2 separate regions of the Homo sapiens genome follow, and region 2 is linked to region 1. Evidence: fine-mapped expression QTL. A gene starts in region 1. The other region holds a variant in brackets. All regions are shown on one strand. Distances are between the middles of the regions.

Evidence for each region. PIP is the estimated chance that this variant, and not a neighbour inherited with it, causes the effect.
Region 2: its variant is fine-mapped to the expression of HS6ST3 in esophagus mucosa (GTEx, PIP 0.98).

Annotation. Positions count from the first base shown.
Region 1 is chr13:96,086,050-96,095,147 of GRCh38, reverse strand. HS6ST3 (heparan sulfate 6-O-sulfotransferase 3) reads right to left here and starts at 5,041. Exons shown (of 2, transcript NM_153456.4): 1 at 3,579-5,041. The coding sequence starts at 4,285. RefSeq lists enhancers at 4,717-5,217, 5,218-5,718.
Region 2 is chr13:96,892,729-96,901,826 of GRCh38, reverse strand. No RefSeq gene overlaps it. Among named protein-coding and RNA genes, the nearest start is that of LINC00359, 87 kb to the left of the region's middle. The variant G/T (reference allele first, on the strand shown) is at 3,436.

The sequences.
Region 1 (9,098 bases):
ATTATGAAAATGGAGACATGAATTCCCTCAAGAAACCTTAGGTATATCATTTCACCTTTTTATGGTTACATTCCCCATGAAAAATGTGGGACTAGATTCTCTCTTCAATCCTTTTTAGCCATAAAATGCTATGATTCTATATATACTCAAGAATGCTAAAAAGGAGTCTTTTAAGGCTCTGGACATGCAGATTAAGGGGCGTACAGTAATAAAGAAGGAAGCATAAAGAGAGTGAGAAAGAATGGCCTGCCAAAAAAATAACTGAGGGGGAAAAGCAACACAAAAATAATGGGAAAAAATCATCAGTGATATGATACAAGAGGTAATTCCGATGTGCCACCATCCTATTCTAACCAGTTTCTGTGGTCAGAAGTTACCTCTGTGCTGGATTCAAACCACCAGCCCGGGGTCCTGCCCCTTCATGACCCACATAATCCATATGATGGCCCCTTGAAGTTTGCCATGTATTTCTTTTCAGAGTTGGCTTCCTGCTTCTGCCTTCAGTCCTAGATGTTCTCACCTCCTCGCTCACCATTCCAGATAGTTTTTGTGTTACCAACGGAATGTATATCCAATTATATTGTGTGCCCCCAACTTTGTTCCCCACCTTGCCCCCTGCAAAGACTGATGTCCAAATGTCCATAATTTTCAACTTATTGTTTAAGTTTGCAACCTAGGATGCTTAATACAAGTAATCATAAAATGGTATCTCTGTAAGGTGACCCATTTATACAGATCTTCTCTAAGAAACGGACCTCATGGTTTTTTAGGAAGAAGGCCTTGAGTGGGGAACCTATCGTTGCAATTAACAACTGATATTGCAGTATTACTATATATCTACATAGTAAGCACGATATGCCAGTATATTATACTACGCATATATACTATGCTAAGCATTTTGCATGCATTGATTCATTTAGTTCTCACAACACCCCTATAATGGCCATACTAATTATTATCTACACTTTAAAAGTGAAGAAACTGAGACTCAGAAAAAGTAACTTACTCCTGGGTACATGGCTAGTAAGTACAAGAGCCATATTTATCTGACTCCAGAATCCTTACTCTTATCCATTATGTGATCCATAAGGGCATTGATCTCTGAGTGAAATTGGGAGGAGGCGCTTTGGGGGGACCAAAAGCAGAAAGACTAGGGAACCAAAATCAACAAGATCTACTTATCAATTTTGCTTAGAGTCAGCCCTATTTGAAGTAGAACCTTGTTCCCATTATGTACCAATAGATTATCTGCCATTTTGCATTGTGAAAAGGTACCCTCCATTATCCAGGCTAATCTAGTTGACTGTAGAATGCTGTACACAGACATTACAATGACAGACAACTAATTCAATCTTCTCTGCTAGAGAGATGCTACTGTTAACATCCTTTCAACTTTTTCCCTATAGCTTTTGATGCAGGGCACTTCACATATGCCACAACTATTCCCTCCTACAGTATCTAGAGCAAGGAAGTAATTGAGAATTACTGGGGAGAGAGAGAGGGTGGGAAGGAAAAGAAAGGATTATAAAATGAGGTAAAAACAAAATACTACCAAAAAAAAATTTTTTTTTTTAGAAAGAAAGGAAACCAGAACAGGGTGACTAATTGCCTGCTAACCTGTGATTCAGGGAGAAGTGAATGTTTATGCTCCATTACTAAACAAAGAAAATAACTTGATCATACACTAGAAATCATATGTTTAAACAGTCACAGTGGAGTTTTCCTGTGTCAACAGAATAGAGATATTAAGTATTTCCTATAGAAGTGAGACCTTACTGCTTGTCACCTATTCAGGGTCTGTAGTAACATTATTCATCACTAAGCAAAAATCTAATTATTTTTAGATTCCACATCCTCCTCTAAGTCCTTTAAAATCTTCATCTATTTACTAAGACTTTTATGAACCTGGGACAAAAATAATGCCAGCCCCTACTGAAGAGTAATCAGACATTTCTATGTGATAATCAATAAGACTCCAGTTTTAGTGAAATGGAAGCTGGGAAGCAGTCTAGCAAACCCTTTGAGGTCAATCAGGAATTAATCTAAACAGGGAGTACAAGGTTGGATGAAATGTAGCAGAAATTGTGTCTCACTGAAGTAATAGTGTTATGTGTTAGGAGGTTTGGAAGTAATACTTAATTGAAAAACTGTTTTAAGCTAAAAGAGAGTGGCAAGATCCAAAGTAATACACTATTAAAAATATTTAAAAGCAAAGGATCCGTAAAATATACTAAGAGAAGAGCCTAATTCCCTCATTCCAAATCCAGTTTCTTATTCTAACTAATGTGCAGGAAACAGGAAAAGGAGCAGGGAGGAAGGAAAGTATCTGAAGAATTGCCAGAGTAAAAAATCTCATAATGAAATTTTGCTCATTCTTGGAGAAATGAAGTAGAATTAGATGCTTCAGTGGTGGTGAATTCCAGAATCTGGGTAGCTTCCAGTAAATGAAGCTTTTCTATAACGTCAAATGCAAAAGCTATCTGGGATATCAACATAATCAGCTTGAGCTTTTAAATTCCTATTTCCTCATACCAAATTGTTTGAAACCTTTAAGATAAAAACTTCAATGAACTAGTGTTCCAAGCTTTTAATATTTTCGTCCTTTAGCAAGCATGTCAGATTAATCTTCAAATTGCAATGGGCAGAAAGGACCTTCAACCAAATTATTAAGCCCATGTCTCTCTCAAAGCATGTTAATAATGTAAGCAGTTTCATTGGCTATTAAGATTTTTAACTTTCTTAATTCTCCACTGTATTACTGTTTTTTAAGGCTGGGAGGCAGGGGATCAAGAATGTCATTCCATCCTGAAAACAAGGGATGTTATGTTATCTTTATACTCACTTAACACCTAGCACACTGTCAGGCACCCTGTAGGCATTTAACATACTTTTGGAATAAGTTGATGTAATGGCCTAGGAAGAGCATGGAAATCTTTCTGAGGACAGGTGAGTCCAAATCCTGGCACTGCTGGGCAACAAAGACCATCTCCAGAATTAGAGTTATCTATCGCGGTAGAACAGGAATTTGCACGTGTGTCTTCAAAGTGGCATCAAGAGGATTGACTGTTTCCTGAGCTGCCATCCAAAAGCCACTTAGGGAGGGATTATACTCGTCTCCAGCTTCACCACGCCTGGAAAACTCGTGCCTTGCCTCTCTACTCCCCCTTCCTTTTCCTGGGTTTGGGTTTACACTCCCAAAACTTAAGTTCACAATTCTACAAGGCTGGTCTAACCCAGACCGCGATCCGCTCCCCATTTCAGGGCGTTTTTCCAGCGTCCACTGGGAGGGAGGCCAGGCCGTGCTAGGCAACAGGCAGGATCCACACGGTGGCTCCGCACATCTTAGAGGGTGAAGGCAGAGGGGTGGCGGGAAGCGGTGGGGGCTGGGGGAAGAACGAGTTCAGGACCTAGGCACTATCCGGAGGTTTCTCATCCCTCCCCAAAGCCACGGCGCCAACCGCTGAAGACGCCAGGAAACCATCGGCAGGGGCAGGGAGCGCGGGGTCGCTCTGGGTCAGGACTGAGGAAGAGGGATGGGGGGTGGGGGGGAAGAACAGAGACCCAGCGGGCGACAGTACCTGGTGTGGCTGTGGTTGCGGGGACAGTCCTTCTTCTCCATGATGGCCGGCACGCAGTTGGTGAGCTCCGTCCAGTCGGCGTGCAGCCCGCAGCTCCAGCCGGTGGAGAAGCGGGAGAAGAGCCACGTCTCCTTCTTGCCAGGCCGGTGGCAGGTGCACTTCTTCTGACCCGCTTTGCAGCTACAAGGCTGCTCCAGCCGGATGTTCTTCACCAGGTGCCGGCCGAAAGTGGTGCCCCCCGTCTTCTGGATGTGGAGGAACACGATCACGTCGCGCCCTTTGATGTTGAAATCCACGAAGCGGGTCAGGTCCTTCAGGCTGAAGTTGAAGCGCGGCACGAATCGGGGCAGGGAGCCGTTTTCCGGGGCCTCGGGGTCCGGCTCGTCTTCCTCCTCCTCTTCCTCCCCCTCCCGGGGGTCTCCGGGCTCCTCGTCCTCCTCCTCCGGCGCCGCGGCCCCCCGAGGTCCCTCGGGGGGCCCCCGGGGCGGCGGGGGCAACTGGGGCCGCCGCTCCCACTCCTCCGGCGGCGCCTGAGCCCGGCGGGCGGGACCCGGGACGGCGGGCGGGCCGGCCTCCCCCGCGCGGGGCTGCTCCCCGAAGTTGGTGCAGGAGCTGGTGCAGGAGGGGGACACGTACTGGTACATGATGACCACGAAGAGGAGAGTGAGCACCGGCGTCAGCAGCCACTTGTTGAACCTTTCATCCATGGTCCCGCTCTCAGGCCGGCAGGCGAAGCGGCGGCGGCGGCGGCGGCAGGGCGGACGGGCGCCCGCTCGGAAGTTTCGCGGACTCCGGGGCGCGGCTCGGAGCCCGCCGTTCCTCCATGCCCCTGACGCCGAGGCGTGTGGCTGGCTGGCGGCCCCGCGGCCCTCGGGGCTTGAGGAGCCGGGGCCTGCGAGCCGGGCGGGGGAGGCGGGCGCCGGCGCGCTCGGCTGCGGCTGCGGCGTGGGGCGCCCTGCGCTCCCGGGTGCGCCCGGGCCGGCCCGCTCCCTGCTCCCGCCCCGGCGCGGCTCTCTCAGGCGACGCGCGGCATCCCGCCGGCGGCTTGCAGGCGCTCAGGCGCTGGGGAGCGGGGTTCGGGTCCTGGACCTGCCGCGCGCAGCCGGGCAGCCGGGTAGCTGCGGCCGCGAGCGCCGGGGCTGCATGAGGCTCGCCAGGGCGCCGGCCAAGGGCGAAGGCGCGGCCCGCTCCCGCCGCCCCGGCCGGCCGCGGGCACCGCGCCCGGCACGCGCGCCCGGCGCCTTTGCCGGCAGGTCGCGGGGCTGTGGAGCCGCGAGGGCTGACGGCGCTCGCCGCAAGTTTGCAGAGCGGCCCCCGCAGCGCAGCGGCAGCGGGCGAGGCGCCTCTGCGGAGACGCCTCTCCCGGCGAGTCGCACTGCCGCTCCGGGCTGTCCGCCCAGGCGCAGGCACGCAGACACACTCGCACACACAGGCTGGCACCGCCACAACCCGCCAGCCGGTGTGACAGGAGCCCTGCTACCCGCAGCAAAAACCTGCCCTAGGTACGGAGCATGCGCCAAAGCCTCCCCCAGCCCCGGAGGAGTTTCCAGGGGAGGAGTCCGCTGCTCCGCGGGGCTCGGAGGAGGCAGCTGGGGGTGGGAATCCCTTCGGCCGGGAGCAAGGAGAGATTTGGCAGAAAGGCAAAGGTGGGGCGAGAGGAGGCCCCGAGGTAAGCGTCGCTGGCGTTGATCTGACACCTTAAAATGGGCAGCTTCTCTGTCTGGTAGTGGCCGGCCTTATTTTCAGGAATAACACCTGCACACTCCCGGGAACACTCACTAGACCAGACTTTACACGGGTTGGCAGTTCCCTTCTCAGCAGGGGAACGTGGCTCCAGACTGCTGTGAATTTCTACCCAAGACATTCTAACTGGTGTTCGAGTTTTATGGTGGTCCTCCCTTAATAACAAACTTGGTGCGTCCAACTATACAACTGTATTCAACCAGCATCAATTAACCATTAAGCGCCTAACTGTGTATCAGGCTCTATGTTCAATACACACTTTCTTTCAGCACTAGACAGTCCAGCCCTCAACCATGCAGTACTTAGAACATAAAAAGGAGTTTAGGGATCACCTCCTAAAAAAATCATTCTACTAATAGACGTTGAACTCCTAAATGTTCAAGATTTATTCCTTCCCAACAATGGTGGAAGATAACACTTAAGCTTGCCTATATTTCATAAGCCCTAATTTGTATGCAGATGTTTTTTGGAAACTTTATTTTTCAAACATCTAGATGTTGCATTTAGTATTACCCCAGAACTAAATCTTTGCTCAATAACAACTTCTGTTTTTCAGATAGTGAAAAGATATACGATCAAATTGTTGTAACTGCCCTACCACAGTCCCTAGACCTGCTCGACCTATTTTCCGAGTGGAGAGTGGCAATGTGTTAAAGGCAATGTGTGAGGACAATGCAGTGTGATTCCCTGGCCCAGACCAATGTGTCCCTCCCAGCTACACTACCGTATTCCACAGGTGTGCTATAATATTTCATAGCAGCCCACCGTCCCATCTGGCCTTTTTATGAATCCATGCACTTGTTTCTTCCTGAGACACTCTGTCGATGTCATCTATTTATCAGGGTGTCCCCTCTGCAGCCATCAGTGAAGATCCAGGGCTCTTTCAGGGATGCTAAAGTTTGCCCATAGGATACTATTTTCCTTGTTTAGACAGGTGGAATTCTTCTCAATAAAACTTCCCTCCTCTATTTCCTTTCCCGTTTTCAACTCTTTAAACAACTCCAACCCTTGCCTTTCCTAATATGTAGGAGGCTATATCAGTAGAAAAGGTGTTGGGTGAGATGAATCAGCTTCTTTAAAGCTTATTTGATTCTATTTCTTTTTCTCTCACTTAAGTTTGAAATCCTATTAATGGCATCACACCCCACTCCACAGCAAGAAACTGTGATAAAACAAAAGCCCAACAATTATTTTCTGAATGTGTCTGCTTAATATACACATACCTCTGCTTTAGTTAAGTAAAACATCATTATACCTTTTTATATCACCTTATTGAAGAAGCTTCTCATTTCCTATAAAATTGCTTGATATCACATGGATAAACATCACCTTATTAGCTACCAAAATGGATAACCAGAATGCTAGTGGTAGTTTGTATAGTGGAAAGCACTCTCCTAGCCATTATTTCATTTGCTTCTCAGAACAACACTCTAAGGAGATAAGAGAAGTATAATATCCCATTTCAGAGATGAGGAAACTGAAGCAAGGAAAGTTAGGTGAAAGCAAAGCCAAATTAGAAACTGCTAACATCCCGAAAATACAGTCACTGAAGAAGTTCAACAAACATCAACAACAGAGCCCATAATTTCCTCTCTCCCCTCTTGAGACCATTTGAGTCAAGAGGCAAGAAGAGACAACAGAATTGCAATAGAATAATTAAATTATGTTATCTCTCCTCCTGACTTTATAGGCAAAGCTGAGCAATTCTACATCCTGCAGTATTTTGTCACTTAGTCTATTAGTTTCAAGAAAGAGGGAAAAATAACAATAACAATCATAAAATGATTATATAATTGTTAAATCACTTAGGAGAATTGTAAAAATAAAATGTACGACAAACATGTAGCAGCTACATTGCTAACAAAACGTGTATTTCCATAAATAAGTGTACCTTTAACACTTTTCAAAGAACATTATCTCCGAAAATCTCGTTTTATTTTCAGTAAAATAGCTACTGAAGTGACTCCATTTCCTTGAGGTAACCACAAGGAAAACAATGCATAGAATCAAGGCAATTACACAGACAATTCAGGCATTTACTCAAAAATTCATTTTTTAATAATAGGTAACTTTGGTCGTGTAAATACAGTCTGTCCCAGGTGTGGTCTCCCTATTACAGTTGTGGAACTTGGTGTGAACCTAATCAAAGCTCTTAAATCACACAATAAACAGCCTTCCTTATCTACAAGGGCAGACCTCACATTCAGGCAAAAATGAATAGAAACTTTCTAAAATTGAACGCTCTCCAGGTAAAAAGGCAAAACATACTTGCATTCAGTCTACTATAGTTACTCCACGATGACACCAGCTGGCAATTGTTTCTCCCTAACATATAGCAGCTACTATGATTCCCACACAAATTATTAAAATAATAAAAATAATGTTTTCAAAGAGCTTTCTTCCACTTCCTTTGCCGGTCTAGCAATGAGCTTAACACTATCTGTGAAGCAATTTGTTCACCTAATTTTATGCCTTAATAAGCTTTACTACAATTATTTTCTTGCCTGATTCGTTCTCTGCCTTGACTTTAGTATACTTCCTCCCTGTTCTTCTGCAATATTCTCAAACCTGTTAACAACATCGCACTCCCCCAGGATTCAAACTTTTGATTAGAACAGTCCCCATTTAATCAAGTTCAATTGGGAAATAAAATTGCATCTCAACTTCTCCATTTTCCCTTTGGTGCCAGAAACTGCCTTGAGAATGTTGAAGAAACCCTGGAGAGATTAACAATCCAAATGATCACAGAGGATAGTTTTGGATCCCCTACATTTGCACAGAGGAAGAGAGATTTGAATGCCCCTCAATAGAGATGAAAATAAAACAGATAATGTAAGTCATTGGCAGCATGACTCTCTCCTACAAGAATGGAAAGTGCTCTTATATACTGAAATGACTTTTGTTTTTCAGTTTTGTAAACAATCTTTCTCCCCACAAAAGCCCCTGGGGTAAGCAGTTTTGCAAATAACCAGCAAAGTGACAGCTTTCTTTTTCCTCAGGAAGTTAAGCAGACAGAGCCCACATAGTTAGAACCAATGGCAGAAAGAATTGGGATATATACTGATTGTGATATATTCCGGTTCACTATATGATTGTAACTTTGGGGCAACCATGACCCTACATACCACTTTCCATAAAGTTCTATTTATCTGAACAGTTCATTCTTTGCCTTACTGTGTAACATCCACCATAGATAGCTGCCTATGAGAATGAATGGAAACCATCTGTATGTATAATGTATTCATTAACTCAGTATAGTGTAAGTAGATGCACTAATCTTTTCCCAATAGATATTCTTTTATTTCTTTGATAAGGACTTGTTAAGCATTTGCTATGTACTGTGTACTCTTCTGAATGCTTTAGATATGCTATTAAACAAGAATAAGGATCCTGTCGTCATGTAGCTTATAGTCTAACAGTGGAAAAATAAATTATAAAGAAGTAAACAAGATTCATTCATTTGATCCAAAGATATATATTGAGCCCCTGCTGTATGCCATGTAGTTTTACGTATTTGGTATGCACTGATGAACAATAAAGACAATAATTTTTACCCTCAAAAATTTAAATTCCGGCAGGGTAAAACAGTAGGGAAGAAGTCAGAGAGACAATGGGAGGAAGGTTATGTCAGGCCTTGTGGGCCATTGTGAGAATTTGACTCTGAGAAATGAGGAGCCACTGCAGAACAGTTTTAAAGGGATCCTTTCGAGTGTTTTATTGTCAACTGTAAAAGGAAAAACACAGAAGCAGGAAAACTGGTTAAGTGGCTATTCCAGT
Region 2 (9,098 bases), 810 kb before region 1:
GATATGATTATCCCAGTAATGCTGCTGTTCCCCCCAATCCTGATATCCAAGAAGGCAAAACAAAATAGTAATTTCTGATGTCAAATAATGTTATTTGCACTGCATTCCCCTATGAATTTGGGTCTCTTTTCATTTGGAATCATTCATTTCTGGTGATACGTTTCTCTATTCTAGTCCCAGAAACACATTGTTTAACAACTGTTGTTTGGTAGTATATTTTATTTTCTGCAAGTGAAAGTCATGTCTTATTTAAATTATTCAAAATTTGCATATTTTATTATACATTTTTGGACATGATGTGGAATAATTTTGTCAAGCTAAACAAGCCGTTCTGAGGTTTTTATTGAAATTGCTTTGAATGTATAAATTAATTTACAAGTTAAAGTATTTCTTCCCATCCAGTAGAATTTTATATTCCTTTCTTTTTCCCAAAAAGAAATTCAATTTCTCCTTAATTGAATGTGTTTTAAGCCCCATGAAACAGGACGACCCTTTGTCCACATTCAGAAATCTGTCTTGGGCTGACAGCAGTAAAAATGCTTATCATGTTTTTTTCTTCCTAATCGACCTACTGATCTATTCTGGCATTGCCACGGCTTTCCAGGGAGGTCTGGGAAGCTCTCTGACAAACTGTCGATAGCCAAGTGAGATGTGACCTTGGAAGCCCCACCCCTCCATAACAGAGTGACTGATAGGGCCCCTCCCATGGTCCTCTCTCTTAAAGGAAAGAAGACAATTTGCAAACACTCAGCCTAAAGTATGCTCCTTGAGGAAAGCTAGCCAGAACTCACAGTAGCAGAATGGGTCATTTTCTTCTACCTCAAAGCAAATTCTCTTAGAGCAGCAGGAAATGAAGTGGTATTCACACTATCAATTACATCAACTGTTTACCTCATGAACTCAGCTGCAGAGACAGCCATGTTCCAGACCAAAAGAATTTAATAAGCCCATGGTAACCCTGCAGTAACAAGCACCTTGGCAAATTCAAGGTCTGAATTCACATGATTACAATCCAGCTGCCAGGAAGGTGCCATCCCATTATTGACTTATAATGCTATGTTATTTATTGGGATAATTATGCTTTTCTATCCCTCCGGGGCTCAGAATCAGAGAAAGTAACCAATGTATTCTTATTCATTCAGCATGTGAGCAAATTTCAAGTCAGAATAGATCTCTCCAAGGTCTGTTATACTGTATGGAGGCACCCTACAGGCTTTGGTCCCTACCCCTAAAGATTACAGGGGCTAACAGGGTATTGTATAAATCAGTGGGAAGTTGGTTCTTGTAAGTTCAGTGAAGCAAAATTTCTGTTTTGTCAGAGCAATTTTGCCTGGAACTCTCTCACTCACTGCTCTCAAATGTAAGCATCTTGTTCCTGCTCTCAGAGCTTCAGAGCTTCTTTATAATACTGTAGGTATGAAAATGAAATGTTTACATATTCAAAATTTGGCTATTATTTTATCATAATTTGCATATATTCTATGTTGCATATATTCTAAATAACCCTACAAAGAAATTATTATTGCAGATGAGGAAACAAAGGCTCAGAGTAACTACATGACTTATTTGGTGGACACAAGTAAATAATTCTCTTTTTCCTGAATATGATTCATTTGCTTACTTATCTGATTTCCTGCCAGGTTTCCTAAATCTTTGAAATCAGACATATTCTAGCTAGATCCCTAATGCCTCAGCCCCTGGTGTTGGCCCTGATATATAGTAAGAATTTAATGAATATCTGTTGAGTAGTGGGAAAATGTTGGGCTACAAGCCAGTAAATGATGGGATCCAATCTCAGTCCTAATAATTATAAACCTTGTGAACTTGGGCCTACTACTTTTCTCTGCACTTCATTTTCCTCATCTCTAAATTGGAGCTAATAACACCAAATCAGACCAAACTTCTCTTTCTCACAGGTTTGTAGTAAGGATTAAATAAAATTCAATATAGGAAAGAATTTTCAAATACATTATGCAGTATGGATAAAATGAAATCCATCTTCTCAAATATCTGCTTATAGAAAGGTTTAGCCTAGATTGGAAGAGACCATTATACAAGTGACATAGAGATCAGAGCTGTTTCTGTAACATCAGAGTTTACTGAGCCTGTTCCAGTGGATCCTTCTTGCTGATCACTGATCTCCAGTCTCTGAATCATTTTGCATGGTGCTATAGAAAGATCTATGAATACAGAATCAAAATATATAGGTTTAATATTAGTTTTGTCAGCAATAAGCCATGTGGTCAAGTTATTTAAATCCTGGGCTTCAGTTTTTATCTTGTTTTCTATAAAACAATGATGGTAGTAGTGGTGATAATTATGTGTATGGAGGGAGAGGGTGGAACGGGAGGGGATGGATTAAATTGTCTCTAAATGACATTGCAGCCTTATTATTATGATCAAATTAGAGTTTGGAGAGAGTGGTGTGAATAAGATGGATGCTTAGAGTTTGAGGTATATGTATGAGCACGCAGGGTCATGGATAAAGAATGAGAATCCAGAATGCCATCTCCCCTCTCCCGCTAAAAGAAAACATTTTACACACAGAGGTCGCAAGTAAACCTGCTGCAGGGTTGGACCTACTTCCACTGGGGTTGGAGTTAGTTCGAATGTGGATCTATCCCTAAGTACCTTCTAATTGGATAGCTTCCCCCATTAAAGAGCCCTTGGAGCCTTGGGCAGCCAGACCCTGCTGTCAGGGCTTTGGTTGTTGACTTCTTCAGTGTGGGGTGGGGGGAGGGGTACTCACGGGAATGTTGTCAACAGCATTCACATGATCCTCTGAGGCCAGCACAAACCATCAGACACTGTCGCTTTTGTCTTGCTCTGACCATTACTCCTGGTTGTTTTCTTTCTGAAGGTGCCCGAGGCTCCAGCCTTTTCCTCCATTTCCCTAATAAACGTTACCTAGCAGCTACAATTCTCCTGCAATACATCTGAAAAATTCATCACTTTTTTGGCAGGCTTTGAACTTTGCTGCTTGCTCAGAGGATGGGATCTAAAAATGAAACTGGCTTACTTAGCAGTGGGAATAATACAAATTTCATAAACATCAAAGTCCTATTTTTCTGTTGTATTTCACATTAGTTTCACGTGATTCACATCCATTGCCATATTTTACCTTAAGAAATGGATCTATGTGTGAAAAAAAAATGTATTCTTGTGAGGTTTGCAATGGAAAATTTTCCAACATCAACCATGTTATTGTATTTCCTTAGCACTGGTTAGTTACAGACCCTGCTGTGGCTTGATTCACATTCATGATAAGAGAAAATAAGCCTCTTAAGGCATCCTTGAACTTAAGGATGAAGAAAAATGCCTTAAGGAGACATTTCAGCTCCAGAGTACAGCTCAGAGCCACCAAATCTGTGAGAAAGCTGATGATGAAAGACAAAAATATTTTTTAGTCATGGATTTTATAAGCTAAACCCCAGG[G/T]ATTAGTTCTTGGTGGTGGAAGAATGTGAGAGGCACATTGGCAAAGAGCCTGCTGAATAATTGTAATGGCCTTCCCTATGAATAAAATAGTATTATTACTTTGTACCTTTGCTAAGGACTAGGGTCTAGGGAAAGTCAGGCAGGCAGAAAAAGATAGTTGTCTTTGACTTCAGTGGTGGAAAATATATTCCCAAAATAATCACACTGGACTATGGAGTGCCACTGGAAGAACTCTTTAAAAAACAAAACCCCCCCAACACACACACACACACACACACACACACACACACACACACACACACACACAGAGTAAATCCCTGAGGTCCAAACTCAACTGGAGCCTCAGTACTGCCCAGCATTCTTATAGCTCCTTTTAGACTGCTATCTTCCATTGTTCAGAATGGTTATTTCAAGTCTTCTCCATTTATCTCCAAGTGTCCCAAGCCACCTTCCTCAAAGACTCCCCAGAGATAACACTGGGTCCAAGTTCTTAATAAAAGTAAAAGCAGCAGGTCAGTACTCCCTTGACTTTCTGTCGTTCAACAGGCAAACTTAATTTCACTGGCACCAAGTTAGTTTACTAGGCCTGCCGTAACAAAGTGCGAACTGAGTGGCTTAAACAACAGTAACTTACTCTCTCACAGTGCTGGAGGCTAGAAGTGTCAAATCAAGGTTGATTCCTTCTGAAGGTGGTCTTGGAAAATCTGTCCCATGTCTCTCCTAGGTAGTTTGCTGACAATCTTTGGCTTTTTTTTTTTTTTCACCTTCTGTAACATCTCCTGATCTCTGCCTTCACCACATGGCTTTCTCTCTATGTGTGCATGTTAGTGTCCAAATTCCCACCCACTACTATTAAAAAAAAATTTTTTTTGAGACAAGGCCTTGCTCTTTGTTCAGGCTGGAGTACAGTGGTGCAATCATGGCTCACTGCATCCTTGACCTCCCCAGGACTCAAGAGATTCTCCCATCTCAGCTTTCTGTGTAGCTGGGACTACAGGCATGCACCACCACACCTGGAGATACATACATACATATATATATATACACACACACACACACACATATATATACACACATATATATAGTATACTATATATATGTATACATACAGGGTGTATATATGTATACTAATATATAGTATATATATAGCATATATAGAGAGTATATATATAGAGTATATATATATATAGTATGTTGTAGAGATGGGGTTTTGCCATGTTGCTCAGGCTGGTCTCAAACTCCTGGTTCAAAAGTACTGGGATTACAAGCATGAGCCACCATACCAGCCTCCCCCTTTATATTGTCTTATCTTATATTTTGAGACAGAGTCTCACCCTGTCACCTAGGCTGGAGTACAGTGCCATGATCTCGGCTCACTGTAGCCTCTGCCTCCTGGGCTCAAGTGATTCTCCTGCCTCAGCCTCCCGAGTAGCTGGGACTATAGGCATGTACCACCATGCCCAGCTAATTCTTGTATTTTTAGTAGAGATGGGGCTTCGCCGTGTTGGCTAGGCTGGTCTTGAACTCCTGGCCTCAAGAGATCTGCCCCCCTTGGCCTCCCAAAATGCTGGGGTTACAAGCATGAGCCACCATGCCTGTCCTCTTCTTTTTACAGGGATATCAAACATATTGGATTAGGGACTTACCTTACTTCAGTATAACCTCATCTTAACAATTACATCTGCAATGGCCTTATTTCCAAATAAGGTCACACTCTGAGGCAGTAGGCGTTAGGATTTCAATACATGAATTTGGGGGAGACACAGTTCAATCCATAATAAGTATCCACCTTTAACCCATGACTGATCTTTTCAAAAGTACATTTCCTTTTAGGTGTGGCTACTCCCTCCACAGATGTTCTGGAGTCTGACCATTGCTGCTACCTCAGAAACACTGTTTAATCAGGCGCCTCCTTGCTTCTCAACAACTACAGTTGTTCCTTTCATACAACTCATTCTAATCAGCATTTAACCAAGTTCATCTTTCTCCCACCTCAAGAAACAACTGCAACAACAGAGGCTTTCATGAGCCTCACATCCCATGTGAGCTTTGGCCCTGTGCTCTCTTTTCCTTTGCAGTATACATCAGCTCTCTCCACTTGCTTATAGCCTATTCACTCAGTTCACTAAAATATGGCCTCCTCGCTCCTTACTTCATTCACATTACTATTGTTAAGAACAGGGGATGACTTTGCTCTTGCTAGATGCAATGGCTCTACAGGCTTCCTCTTACCCAAGTCTTCATCATGATTTAACACTGGTGACTTATCCCAACTTCTGGAAGTCCTTACCTGTTTCAGATTCCACACTTCCATATTGCCCTTGAAACAGACTTTGCAAAAAATTTAACAATAAGAAAATTACGGCAGTAAAAGAGATCTGATCTAACCCACCCCCATCTTGCCCTTCCCTTAATTATTCTTGGGCTTTTGGGCCAAGCTAACTTTGGAAGACATTTAGATTATGGTTTAAATGATAATAGCCCTTCTCTAAAACTCAACCATCAACCATCTTTGCAAAGCTAATGAAGTCCACCAGGCTACAAGGAAGAGAGGACCCTGATTCTGCTAAGGTATGTGCACTTATCACCAGATATTCCTGCAGATAACACCACTACTGCAGACTGGCCTTTTGAGGTACGTTTTCAGGAATTTTTTTTTGCATGTCTGACATCCCTGGCTCCACCTGGCTCCATGTGGGGATGGCTCCATGTGGACTCCCCAACCTTTCCCTTGTGGCCACACCCAGGAGCAATTCAGCTCAGATGAACAGCTTTGACTCCCTATGACTTCACCTCCAACACAACCAGTCATCAGCAAGCACCCATTATGTGACCACTCCCACTCCCTTCCCCAAATTGCCTTTGAAAACGACAGGACTTCAGGGGGATTGCTTTGAGTATTAACTGTCTCCCCTGTGACATGGCTGGCCTCATGTCAATTAAACTTTCTTTACTGCAATGCTGTGGTCTTTGTTTGTGCAGCAGGCAGCAAGAACCCCTTGGGCAGTTCCATTCTCATACCATGATTTTCTTTTTACCTCGCTGGCTGATACATCACAGTCTTCTTTGCTGGTTCCTTTTTGTGAATCCTTTAAAATGTCAGAGGCCCATCTTCAATCCTGTAGACTCTCCTCTTCTGTGATGTCTTCCAACCTCAAAGCTCTAATGACTATCTGTATGCTCTTACCCTCAATTATATTTCAAGCTAGGATTTCTCTCCTGAGGTCCAGACCTATGTGAATAAAACCAGTGGACATCTTCAGATAGATATCCACAGACAGCTTAAACTCAACTGTTCCAAACTGAATTCATCACAGGTCATCAAAATCTATTTCTCCATCTATGCCCAATATCTCAATGGCACTGTTATTTTACCTTGTGTCTCAGCCAGAAAACATGGATTTTTATTTACGTTTTTCTTTCCCACAAACCACATCCAATTACACCGATTCTTTGGACTCTCTCTTATCTTTTGAAATTCTCCAATTCTCTTCCTGGCAGTCCTTATTTCAGGCTATAAGCATCCTTTTCCCAGGCAACTGCATCAGCCTCCTAACATGTCTCCCTTTCTCTGATCTTGCCATCTATGATGCATTGTCCACACTGCAGTCAGAGCAACCTTTCTCATAATCTGTCCTATGCATGACTCCTTGGTAGCCCTGCTCCTTAGCCTAATGGAGAGCTCCAACCATTCTGAAGCTCTTGCCGGTCCCCAGTGCCTCATGATTTCCCTCACCCCACAGCCTTTATGCACATTGCTGTCACAGGAATGTCCATTCTTCACTCTTTTATCCTGTACTACCAACCCTCCAATTGGAAAACTCATATCCCCAAAACTGGCATGAAAAGTACTCCTAAATTTTCCCATGCCAGCAGGTTACTACTAGCTTTCCTAACTTTTATCACATCATCTATTATATATATATATTCTATATGTATTAACATATTCCTTGAGGACTAGGAATTTGCAATGTGTAGTTAAGAAATAGCTTATCTCTCACTGCACAGCACAGAGGCTGATATGTAGTAGTTGTTCAATACATGACTGTTTTGTTTTGTTTCTAGAGACACTGTGTCACCCAGGCTGGAGTGCAAAGGCACCATAGCTCACTGCAGCCTTGAACTCCTGGGCTCAAGCAATCCCCTCACCTTAGCCTCCCAAGTTGCTGGGTCTACAGGCATGTACCACCACATGCAGCTAATTTTTTAAATTTTTAAATTTTTTGTAGAGACAGGGTCTCACTTTGTTGCCCAGGCTGGTCTTAAACTCCTGGGTGCAGGCTATAGTCCAATTTAGCCTCCCAAAGTGCTGGGATTATAGGTGTGAGCCACCGCATCCCTCCATAAATGTCTATTTAATGAATGAATAAATGAAATGAATAAATACATGAATAAATGATCAAGCCTTCAGAGATATTATTAAAACAAGCCATATTTGACTTAAATAGCAAAACTGGAGGTGGTACATTTTGAAACCCCAAACAAATGTAATCAAATACAGATAAGCTAAAAAAAAGAATCAGAAAGACCCCCAAATGCTTAAGTACATGGATAACTTTTAAGAACTCATTTTGTTGACAGTTTTAAAATACCACCTAGGTGTTTGTAAAGAATATTCAAGGTCAGATTTGGAAGAAAATATAAACTCCTCTTCATTTGCACATTGATTAAAAAATAGTCTTCCTACTGTTTCAGGTAGTCAAAAGCACTACAAAACAGACTTATTGGGATCTGTGTGTAATACAAATGAAGTCAATGGCAGATTTATACTGCTAGGAGAAGCACATTAAAGGCTGCTTCTGTCACTGTCTCTGAAGGAAGCCTCTAGACTCTCCCACAGGGTTCAGCCTAGCATAATAAAATAGCATAAAGAGTATGAACTTCTAGTTCTTCTATTTGTAGTATTACAAGGTAATATTGAACCTTCATTGAACAGAGGAGGAGGCATTTCTTAAGTCTAAAACTTAATAATAGCAAATCCTGTCAACCATCAGAATATATCCAAAATCTAGCTAGTTTTCACTACCTCTTCAGCTACCCCTTTTGTCTCCAATCACCAGAATTTCTTGCCTAGATTATTCTAAGGTCTCCTGACATCTGCCCTTGCACTTTGACTTTCTGTTCTTAACATAATAGCTAAGGAGATCCTGCCCAACAAAAGTGAAAGCATTTTACTCCGCTGTATAATTCAAAATAAAAACCAAAATGCTTATAATGGGCTTGAACATCTTACAAGATCAGCCTCCCCATCCCCAGCCATGAACACTCTGACCTCACTTCCCCTCCCTCCTTCCTCAGTCACTCAATTCTAGCCACACTGGCTTCTTTGATTTCTTTAAGCACTCCTGGCATGCTCCTGCCTCAGGGCTTCTGGAATTCCTGTTCCCCCAAACGGAAGCATTTTTCCCAAACATCTCCATGCCTTGCTAATTTGCCTCCTCCACGTCTTTACTGTAATGATTACTTTTCTGCGGCATCTTCCCTGTCCACTTTATTTTAAATTACAATCCTCTGTCACCATTAGCACTCTCTGTTTGCCTTTTTTGCCTTATTTTGCTTCTTAGCACACAATTCCATCTGACAGTTCGCTTATATATTTGTTTCTTTAGTGTTTGGTTTCCCACATTATACACTCTTTGGGATTATTATCAGCTCTTGTTTAC